Linked DNA regions of Homo sapiens. The protein of the gene in region 3 purifies or fractionates together with the protein of the main gene of each other region. This does not show direct contact. Each region holds a gene or a part of one and is shown on either strand. Other genes may lie near its edges. The genes, in order: TRAPPC6B, TRAPPC10 and RUFY4.

Region 1 (3,654 bases), on a different chromosome or scaffold from region 3:
GCTAAACTTTCTTCTAAGGAACCATGCACTCTGCTTATGGTGCTGTGACTATTAAATCTGCGTTTCTAGTACAGACTTTATTGGGCATAGACATCTAGTGGTCCCACAGGACCTTCGAAGTATGCATATTCAAATGATATTCATTTTATTAATGTCTTCAGCCTGCTCTGCCTCCAAAATTTCCTAACTTCATTAATGGCACCACCATTCACCTAGTTACTCCAACCAGAAAACTTCCATTTTCTTCACCCCTGTGCTCCCAACCCCCCATACACTGTAGTCCGGTGGAGCCTATCTTTTACAAGCTTTTCAAAATTCATCGTCTCTCTCTACCCTTACTTCTTAAGTAAAGCCTTATCATTTCTCTCCTGGTTTTTAGCTATAGCTTTCCAACTGGTCTTGTCTCATTTTTTCCTACTTTGTGTCATCTTCTATATTTCTGGTAGTGTAACTTCTACTAAAGTAAATTTCTAAAAAAAATCATGTTATTCTCGGCCGGGCATGATGGCTCACGCCTCCTAGCATTTTGGGAGGCCGAGGCAGGCGGATTACCTGAGGTCAGGAGTTCGAGACCAGCTTTACCGACACGGAAAAACCCCATCTCTACTAAAAACATAAAACATTAGCTGGGCATGGTGGCGCATGCCTGTAATCCCAGCTACTCGGGAGGCTGAGGCAGGAGAATTGCTTGAACCCAGGAGGCGGAGGTTGCAGTGAGCCAAGGTCACCCCATTGCATTCCAGCCTGGGCAATAACAGTGAAACTCTGTCTAAAAAAAAAATCATGTTATTCTCTACTGGAATTTCAGCACCTGCTCCCCTTTCTTCAAAATAAAGTCCAGGCCTGATGTAGTGACTCATGCCTGTAAATCCCAGTACATTGGGAGGCCAAGGATTGCTTGAGCTTAGGAGTTCGAGGGCAGCCTGGGCAACATAGTGAAACCTCATCTTTAAAAAAATTACAAAAATTAGGTGAACATGGTGGCATGCACCTATAGTCCCAGCTACTTGGGAGGCTGAGGTAGGAGGATGGCTTGAGTGCAGGAGGCAGAGGTTTCAGTGAGCCAATATCTAGCCACTGCACTCTAGACCGGGCAACAGAGTGAGATCCTGTCTCAAAACAAACCAACAAACAAACAAAAAATAAAGTCCAAACTCCTTAGCATGGCATCATGGTATGTCCTTTCCTTAAAGACTCCTGGCTAGTTAACCAAATTCACAAACATCCTTCCCTTTTACCACTCTGAAATTTCTGCAGCAACTCCAGAGTGCCATGTTCTCTTCTGTCTCCCTGCCTTTTTATGTGCTATTCCCTAGACTTCACATTCTTTTTTTTTTTTTTTTGAGACGGAGTCTCGCTCAGTTGCCCAGGCTGGAGTGTAGTGGCGTGATCTCGGCTCACTGCAAGCTCTGCCTCCCAGGTTCACGCCATTCTCCTGCCTCAGCCTCCTGAGTAGCTGGGACTACAGGCGACCGCCACCACGCCCGGCTAATTTTTTGTATTTTTAGTAGAGATGGGGTTTCACCATGTTAGCCAGGACGGTCTCGATCTCCTGACCTTGTGATCCGCCCGCCTCGGCCTCCCAAAGTGCTGGGTTACAAGCGTGAGCCACCGCGCCTGGCATTCACATTCTTTAAATTCTGCTCAAGTATTACATTCTCCCAGATGGCTTCCCTGAAACTTCCTTAGGCCCTATGCTGTCGTAAAATTCTGTACATACATCTATTACTGTACGTATCACTATCTTCAGTTTTTCTGCTATTCTCCACACTTCTCAAACATGCTTAGGATGAGGCCAGGCGCAGTGCTCATGCCTATAATCCCAGCACCGTAGGAGGCTGAGGCAGGAGGGTCACTTGAGACTAGGAGTCTGAGACCAGCCTGAGCAACATAGCAAGACTCTGTTTCTACAAAAAAAAATTTTTTTAATTAGCTGGACATGGTAGCATGCCCATAGCCCTAGCTATTCGAGAGGCTGATGTGGGAGGATCACTTAAGCCCAGGAGGTCAAGGCTGCAGTGAGCCAAAGTCCCAACACTGCATTTCAGCCTGCATGACAGAGCAAGACATTGTCTCTCTCTCTCTCTCTCTGTTTTTTTTTGAGACTGAGTCTTGCTCTGTCACCCAGGTTGGAGTGCAGTGACACAATCTCGGCTCAATGCAACCTCCGCCTCCTGGGTTCAAGTGATTCTTCTGCCTCAGCCTCCCGAGTAGCTGGGACTACATGCGTGCACCACCACACCCAGCTATTTTTTGTATTTTTAGTAGAGACGGAGTTTCACCATGTTGGCCAGGCTGGCCTGGAACTCCTGTCCTTGTGACCTGCCTGCCTTGGCCTCCCAAAGTGCTAGGATTACAGGCCTGAGCCACCGTGTCCAGCCTCTTTTTTTTTTTATTTAAATAGAGACACTGTTTCACTATGTTGCCCAGGTTGGTCTCCAACTCCTGGGCTCAAGTAATTCTCCCACCTCAGCCTTCCAAAGTGCTGGGATTTACAGGTGTGAGCCACCACACTAACCCAGAGACTTGTCTCTTAAAAAAAAAAAAAACAAAAAAACAAGTTCAGCTAGAATAAGTGTCTGTAAATCATGATGCTCTTTTTGGAATAATCTGCTCTCTGTAGAATCACCTAGGAACATATTTATTAGCAGGAACTATTGAAACCACCTTTGCAAAGATTGTAACAGTAAGAAAATCATGACTGTAAAAGAGATCTCACCTAATCAACTCCATCTTGCCTTTAACCTCCAAGCTGCCCTTGGTCATTTCTGGATGCAGCCCAAGCTAACTTTGGGAGAAATTTAGTTTATAGTGTAAGCTTAAAGCAAGAATGATAATAGCCCTTCCCGAAACTAAATCACCTTTGCAAAACTAATGAAAGACTATAAGGTTAGGCTTATGAGAGGGGTCTGAATTCTGCTAAAATGTAGGTAGTTAAATGATAATCAGACATTATTCTGGAAGTCACAGATTTGTAACTTCCCCAATTACTCCTGTAAATAATATCACTATTGTAGAACCTAAAAAAGGCCTTTTGAGATGTCTTTTCAGACTTTTGCATTTCGGATGACTCCAACTGGTCCTCTGGCCCCCACCTCTGTAACTGCATCCCCAACCAACCAGGAGCACCCATTCCCCAGCCCCCAGCCTACCAAACTATCCTTGATAAACCCTAGACTCTGCATGTTTGGGGAGGCTGATTTGAGCAATAATAAAACTCTGCTCTCCCATTTAGCAGCTCTACATAAACTCCTTATTGCAATTCTCCTGTCTTGATAGATCAGCTCTACCTGGGCAGTGGGGAAGAAGAACCCACTGGGCAGTTACAATATGCTTATATGCAGACACTTTCAAATCCTATGATCACATGAGCTTTTGAATTAAGCCCTACTACTTAATTTTGCTACTTGTTCATGCACTTTTGAGTAGGCACCAAATTTTTAAGAAAAATTCAACTTGAGAACATTTTATCCATTAGCCTTTCAAAATCCATTCACCATAAATTGAGAAATGCCCAATTAGTCCATTTTAAGAGAATTCCTCTTTAAGCATAGTTTGAAAAACCTTGATTTGGAGGGTTAGAACACTGTTTCTTTCTTTTATCTCACCTCAAGTCTTATGGAAGTTTATTTTGCTATACTGAAAATTTATAAA
Region 2 (3,654 bases), on a different chromosome or scaffold from region 3:
GGCACATCTGATTCCTCCTCAGCAGTGAAACAGAAGGGACTGTTGACACACGCAGTGCTGTGGTTGGATCTCAAGGGCATTATACTAAGAGAAAAACGCCAGTCCTATAAGGAGGTGTACTGTGTGATTCCATTTCTAAATGACATCCTCAAAATGCCAGCCTCAGAAGGAGAGCGGGTCAGTGTTCCACGGAGCAGTGGGAGGCAGCAGGAGGCCGTCCTCTGTGGTAATGGAGAGTTCTGGGCCAGGGCCGCTGTGGTTGTTACACGAATCTACACATGTGACAAATGCCATAGAATTAGACCCAAAGAATGCCTGCGAAAGCTGCTGAAATCCAGTGGGGTCTGCAGCCTGGTTCACTCTGTAGTGAAATCCAGTGGGGTCTGCAGCCTGGTTCTATCTGTATTGAAATCCAGTGGGGTCTGCAGCCTGGTCCACTCTGTAGTGAAATCCAGTGTGGTCTGCAGCCTGGTTCTATCTGTATTGAAATCCAGTGGGGTCTGCAGCCTGGTCCACTCTGTAGTGAAATCCAGTGGGGTCTGCAGCCTGGTTCTAGCTGTATTGAAATCCAGTGGGGTCTGCAGCCTGGTCCACTCTGTAGTGAAATCCAGTGGGGTCTGCAGCCTGGTTCTATCTGTATTGAAATCCAGTGGGGTCTGCAGCCTGGTTCACTCTGTAGTGAAATCCAGTGGGGTCTGCAGCCTGGGTCACTGTATGGTACCAGTGTCAGCTTCCTGTGTTACACGAGATGGCACAGTTGGGTGAAGCTGGTGATGAAGGTATGTGACCCCTCTACTACTTTTACAACTTCTTGTGAGTCTATAAACATTTCACAATTAAAAAAAAGTCTACTCAGGAGCTGAATTTAATAAAATGAGCACTTTTGACTGCTTTGTGAAGCGTGGCATTTTTTTTTTTGTTTTTTTGCTGTGAGTTCATGGTAGTAAAGAACATGAGTGACATGACTGCGCAGTCTGGCCCGAGTTCATGCCATTGTGGTTGCCCCAGCAGCGCGAGGTCAGCAGCGTAGAAAGGCAGCAGTGTGAAAGCTATGAGCTTGCGGGTGCCCTGAGAGCCACACTCTGAGAACTGTCACTCCTTTGCCTTCCTCCTGACACTCCTAGGGCCTCTGCATGTCCTGTAGTAGCTCCTGTCCTCAAAGGTCCCCCATCCCCAACTACAGGATGTCCACCTCCCTGAGCCCTTCTCTGCTGCTCGTGGCCTTCTGGTCACTCACTCCCCCTGGGCGGTTGCTCGGTATCCTCATGATGGGAAGCTGTGACCTCTTTACCAGGTCTACTGCTACTGGATGGCAAGGATCCTGTCTTGCTTACTTTCATATCTCCAGGGCTAGTCCCAGTGAATGATCACTTAAGTGTTTGAATTGCATTGAATTACATGATGGTTGTGTTTTAATAATTAATGTTAATAATAACACCTGCCATATATTAAGACACTACCATGTCCCAGGAGTGGTACTAAGTGCTTTACATACAAGGGGTCTTCAAAAAAATCATGGAAGATACGTTATGAAAAAACTATGCATGGATTTCAACACTTTTTGCACCAAAATAAGCTCCTACTCACTGAGCAGGATCTAGTTTGAGGCACTAAGAAGGATAAGACATCAGTTTTAAAAGAGCCCCTATCAGAGCAACATGAATTCTGCTAAAATTAAATCAAGAACCAACATTGGCCGGGTGCAGTGGCTCACGCCTGTAATCCCAGCACTTTGGGGGGCTGAGGCAGGCGGATCACCTGAGGTCAGGAGTTCAAGATCAGCCTGGCTAATATGGCGAAACCCCATCTCTACTAAGAATACAAAAATTAGCTGGGCGTGGTGGCAGGCGCCTATAAGCCCAGCTACTTGGGAGGCTGAGGCAGGAGAATTGCCTGAACCCAGGAGGCGGAGGTTGCAGTGAGCCAAAATTGCGCCACTGCACTCCAGCCTGGGCAACGAGCAAAACTCCGCCTCAACAACAACAACAACAACAAAACAACCAACATCAAATTTATGGTGAAGCTTGGGTGGAAGAATGGTGAAATCATTGATGCTTTATGAAAAGTTTATGAAATTCTTTGGACAGTGCCCCAAAGAATTAGTAGTTTGCAAATGGATATCTTGTTTTAAGAAGGGACGAGATGATGCTGAAGATTAAGGCCATAGCAAGCAGACCATCCACATCCATTTTCAAGGAAAAAATTCACCTTGTTCATGCCCTAATTGGAGGGAACTGACAACAGCAGAAATGACAGCCAACACCGCAGACATCTGAACTGGTTCAGCTTATGCAATTACGCCTGAAGGGTGAGCAAGCGTTCCACTCAGTGGGTGCCAAAACCCTAGTACCCAGGTCCGTGGCCGACCAGAGCAGAGCTTCCCATGGAAACTTCAAACACACGGGATCAAGATCCTGAAGCATTTACTCAAAGAACCATAACAGGAGATGCAGTGTGGCCTTCCCAGTACCATCCTGAAGACAAAGCAGACACGGCAATGGCTACCAAGAGGTGGGGTGGCCCCACCAAAGCAGAAGCAGACTGGTCAAGAGCAGAGGCCACAGCAACAGGTTTTTGGGATACTCAAGGCATTTTGCTTGTTGACTTTCTGGAGAGTCAAAGGACAGCAGCGTCTGTGTATTATGAGATTGTTTTGAGGAAGATAGCAAGAGCTTTGGTAGAAAAACCCCTGGGGAAGCTTCACCAGAGAGTCCTCCTCCACCACGACAAAGCTCCTGCTCATTCCTCTAACAAGCCCAACTTCGTGAGGGTTTCTATGGGAAATCATGAGGCATCCACCTTGTGGACCTGATTCGGCTCCTTCTGACTGATTTTGGTTTCCTGATCTTAAGAAGTCTTTAAAAGGCACCCATTTTTATTCAGCTAATAATGTAGAGAAAGACTGCGTTGACATGGCTAAATTCTCAGGCCTCCCAGTTCTTCAGGGATGGACTAAATGGCATCGTAAGCAATGGCATCATTGCTTACAAACATGTCTTGACCTTGGTGGGGCTTATGTTGAGAAATAAAGCTTATATTTTCTGTTTTCATCTTTGGATTCCATTTTTGCATGAACTTTTTGTAGTTCCCTCATACGTATTCTCTTTCCATCCTTAAAAAGCAGCTCTGTGAGGCTGGTGGTGGTCTCAGCACTATACAGCGGTCATTGAGCCTGGAGGCCTTGGGGTGCTCTTCTGAGTGGCAGAGTTGGCTTCAGACCCAGTGGTCTTGGATACTGCCACTTACCAGACAGAACCCATTAACTGCCAAAGTCACCATACTGTGGAAGATGACACAAAAATTTGAAAACAAAATTAAATCATTTATTAACCTCACAGGAAAAATGCAGTTTTCTGTACACGTCCAGCATAATTCATTCTAATCCAGAACTAATTGAAATTGGACTCAATGAAATAGGGGTTGCCACCGTGAAAGTGCATGGCTTTATCTTCAGGCGCAGCTACAAGGCACTGGGCTCTGTGTCCGCAGTGTTTTGTCAGACAGCGTTGGGTGAGAGGATTGGGTAACGACGGCCGTGACTCTCGCCTGAGTACTGGAAGGCCCGTCCTGGATGACACATCGCTTCCTCTCGTTTCAGTTGTCGACAACAGTAGCAACTGGGCAGTGTGTGGGAAAAGCTGCGGTGTCATCTCC
Region 3 (2,570 bases):
GAAACCCCAGGGGCCTCTGTGATCAGGGAACACTCCTTTGTGCTTAAATAATGGGTCCTTAAATCATGGGTCAAGGTTATTTTGGGCAAAGAGGAGGCCAGGTGTCAGTTGCATTCTGATCTCTTGCATGTGTCTCTCACTGTCTCTTCATTTCTCTCCGTCTTTCTCTGGCCCCTATGTCTCTTTCTCTATCTCTCCATCTGTCTCCATATCTGTGTCTTCTCCTCTGTCTCCATTTTCTCTGTCTCTGTGTCTCTTTCTCTGTGTGTGTCTCTCTCCCTCTATATATCTCTCAACTTCTCTATGTCACTCTCTGTCTCTCTCCAATCCTCTCTCTCTCTCTCTCCCTCTTTCCCCTTCTCTCCACCCCTCTCTCTCTCTCTGAGTAACCATCTTTCTCTGTCCATCTTTGTATCCCTCCCCATTGCTGTGTCTCTATCTGCGTCTCTGCTCTTGTTTCTGTCCCTGTCTCTGAATCTCTTTTTATTTCCGTATGTGTCCATGTGATTCCCTCCATCACCCTCTCTGTCTCTCTCTTCCTCTCTGTGTGATTCCGTCTGTTCCTCTCTGTCTCTCTGTCTGGGTCTTTTCCCATTTCTATCTTTTGATCTCTGTCTCTGTCTGTGTCTCTCCACCTTCATCCCCCCATCAGAGAGAAGGACCGCCTGTGGCAGAGGCTCCAGCATCTCTCTTCCATGGCTCCCGAGTGCTGTGTGGCCTGTAGCAAGATCTTTGGCCGATTTTCTCGGCGGTATCCATGCAGGTAAAGGGAAGGGCACAGAATCCTCCCTCTGGGACAGCCCAGTTTCCACCAGCTGACAGCCCCCACCCACCCCAGGGAAGGGAGGGACACAGGAACTGGGTGTTTATAAAAGGCCACTTACAGCTGACTACTCATTCTACCACATCTGGCTTCCAACACTAAGCAGAGCCATAAAGGAGAAGAGCAGAAGGATCAGATAAGGAATGGGGTCCGGGGAGTGGGATTGGGTCCCCCTCCAAGAGCCGATTGAGAAATGGGCCTCTCATCTGGAAGGGAGCATCTGTACAGCGTAAGCTGCTCCCCCTCCTTCCTCTGTGAGCACAGTGCTAGGACCAGCCTTGGGAGAGAGGAAAGTGAGCCACCAGGAGAAGCTGCCATGTGGAGGTGGAGGCTCTGGAGGGGTCGGGCATCAGGACACCCTTCAGGAGAGGGGAGACCTCCTGAGACAAACCAAGGGCATTCCACTGGGAGATGAGAAACAGATGTCTCAGGTGGACCTGAAGATGCTGGAACTCCATGACCTCAGCGCCCACTTGGGGAAGTGCCAGCTGCAGAGGCCGCCCCAGGCTTTCCTGCCTCTGCCTTCCAGGCTCTGTGGAGGCCTGCTCTGCCATGCTTGCTCCATGGATTACAAGAAGAGAGACCGCTGCTGCCCACCCTGCGCCCAGGGAAGAGAAGCCCAGGTCACCTGACCAAGACCAAGACCAGCCCATGACTGGCCTCCCACCTGCCTGCCCATCCCACTCAATCCACTCCCTGCCCGTAGCTCTTCCCAGCCCTCTTGTTTGTCCAGTCCTCATTCTAGACACTGAAGATCTAAGGCACCAGCACTTCTGTGGGCAGAGTAGGGTGTGGGGAGTGGTTCCAGCCCTGCAACTACCACAACGAGCCAGGTGACTTTGGCGAAGCTCTCAGTGCTCAGGGCTTCTTCTCTAATGTTAAGAGTTGGGCCCCATCCTCTCTAAAGTCCCTCTGGGCTCAGCAAATCCATGACTGTGGATAAGACCCCAGCAGCCCTGACATTTCTCCTCCACACTCCCCACTCACCCAGCAGCGGTGCCCACCTTTCCTGATTCACGAGAAGTGAAGCCTGCACTATCTTGGACTCTCCAGCAGCTTCCTGTCTGGAGTCAGCTTCAGGGATCTGTGTTTGTGTTGCTGTGTTTCTTTTTATGTTTATTGAAGTACTACTGACATATGATAAACATCACAGAGTGTACAATTTGATGAGTTTTGATTTTAACAAACACCAATGAAACCGTCTTCATAAACATATCTATCCACCCCAAAGTTTCCTTGTGCCCCTTTGTGGTCTCCCTCCCTTCCCTTCCCTCCATACCTAGGCAAACACTGATCTGCTTTCAGTCACCACAGGCTAATGTGCATTTTCTAGAATTTTATGTAAGTGAAATCATACAGTATGCCCTCTTTATTGCCTGCCTTCTTCTGCTGAACTTAATGATGTTGAGATTCGTGTCTGTTGCTACATATATCAAGAACATATTTTATTGTCGAGTGGTATTCCACCGCATGGATATGCCACAGTTTGTCTCTACATTCACCTGTGGATGGACATCTGAGTTGTTTCCAACCTGGGGCTATTACAAATAAGATTCACATGAGTATCTGCTGACATACACTTGTTTCTCTTAGGTTTCTCTTGTGTAGACATATACTTGTTTCTCTTAGGTAAATTCCTAGGAATGACATGGGTGAGTCATTATGTTTAACTTTTTTTTTTGAGACGGAGTCTCGCTCTGTCACCCAGGCTGGAGTGCAGTGGTGTGATTTCATCTCACTGCAAGCT

What was found.
Region 1: the proteins of RUFY4 (region 3) and TRAPPC6B purify together in Homo sapiens (affinity purification with mass spectrometry; one large-scale study listed by BioGRID and IntAct). This does not show direct contact.
Region 2: the proteins of RUFY4 (region 3) and TRAPPC10 purify together in Homo sapiens (affinity purification with mass spectrometry; one large-scale study listed by BioGRID and IntAct). This does not show direct contact.

Annotation. Positions count from the first base shown.
Region 1 is NC_000014.9:39,163,721-39,167,374, forward strand, and holds part of TRAPPC6B (trafficking protein particle complex subunit 6B), read right to left. Parts: intron 1-3,654. UniProt on the Homo sapiens protein: Component of a transport protein particle (TRAPP) complex that may function in specific stages of inter-organelle traffic.
Region 2 is NC_000021.9:44,099,180-44,102,833, forward strand, and holds part of TRAPPC10 (trafficking protein particle complex subunit 10), read left to right. Parts: exon of another isoform or gene 1-887; intron 888-3,598; coding exon 3,599-3,654. UniProt on the Homo sapiens protein: Specific subunit of the TRAPP (transport protein particle) II complex, a highly conserved vesicle tethering complex that functions in late Golgi trafficking as a membrane tether.
Region 3 is NC_000002.12:218,088,600-218,091,169, forward strand, and holds the end of RUFY4 (RUN and FYVE domain-containing protein 4), read left to right. Parts: intron 1-652; coding exon 653-763; coding exon of another isoform or gene 764-767; exon of another isoform or gene 768-886; coding exon of another isoform or gene 887-890; exon of another isoform or gene 891-929; coding exon of another isoform or gene 930-963; exon of another isoform or gene 964-1,087; coding exon of another isoform or gene 1,088-1,238; exon of another isoform or gene 1,239-1,352; coding exon 1,353-1,455; 3' UTR 1,456-1,985; downstream 1,986-2,570. UniProt on the Homo sapiens protein: ARL8 effector that promotes the coupling of endolysosomes to dynein-dynactin for retrograde transport along microtubules. Acts by binding both GTP-bound ARL8 and dynein-dynactin.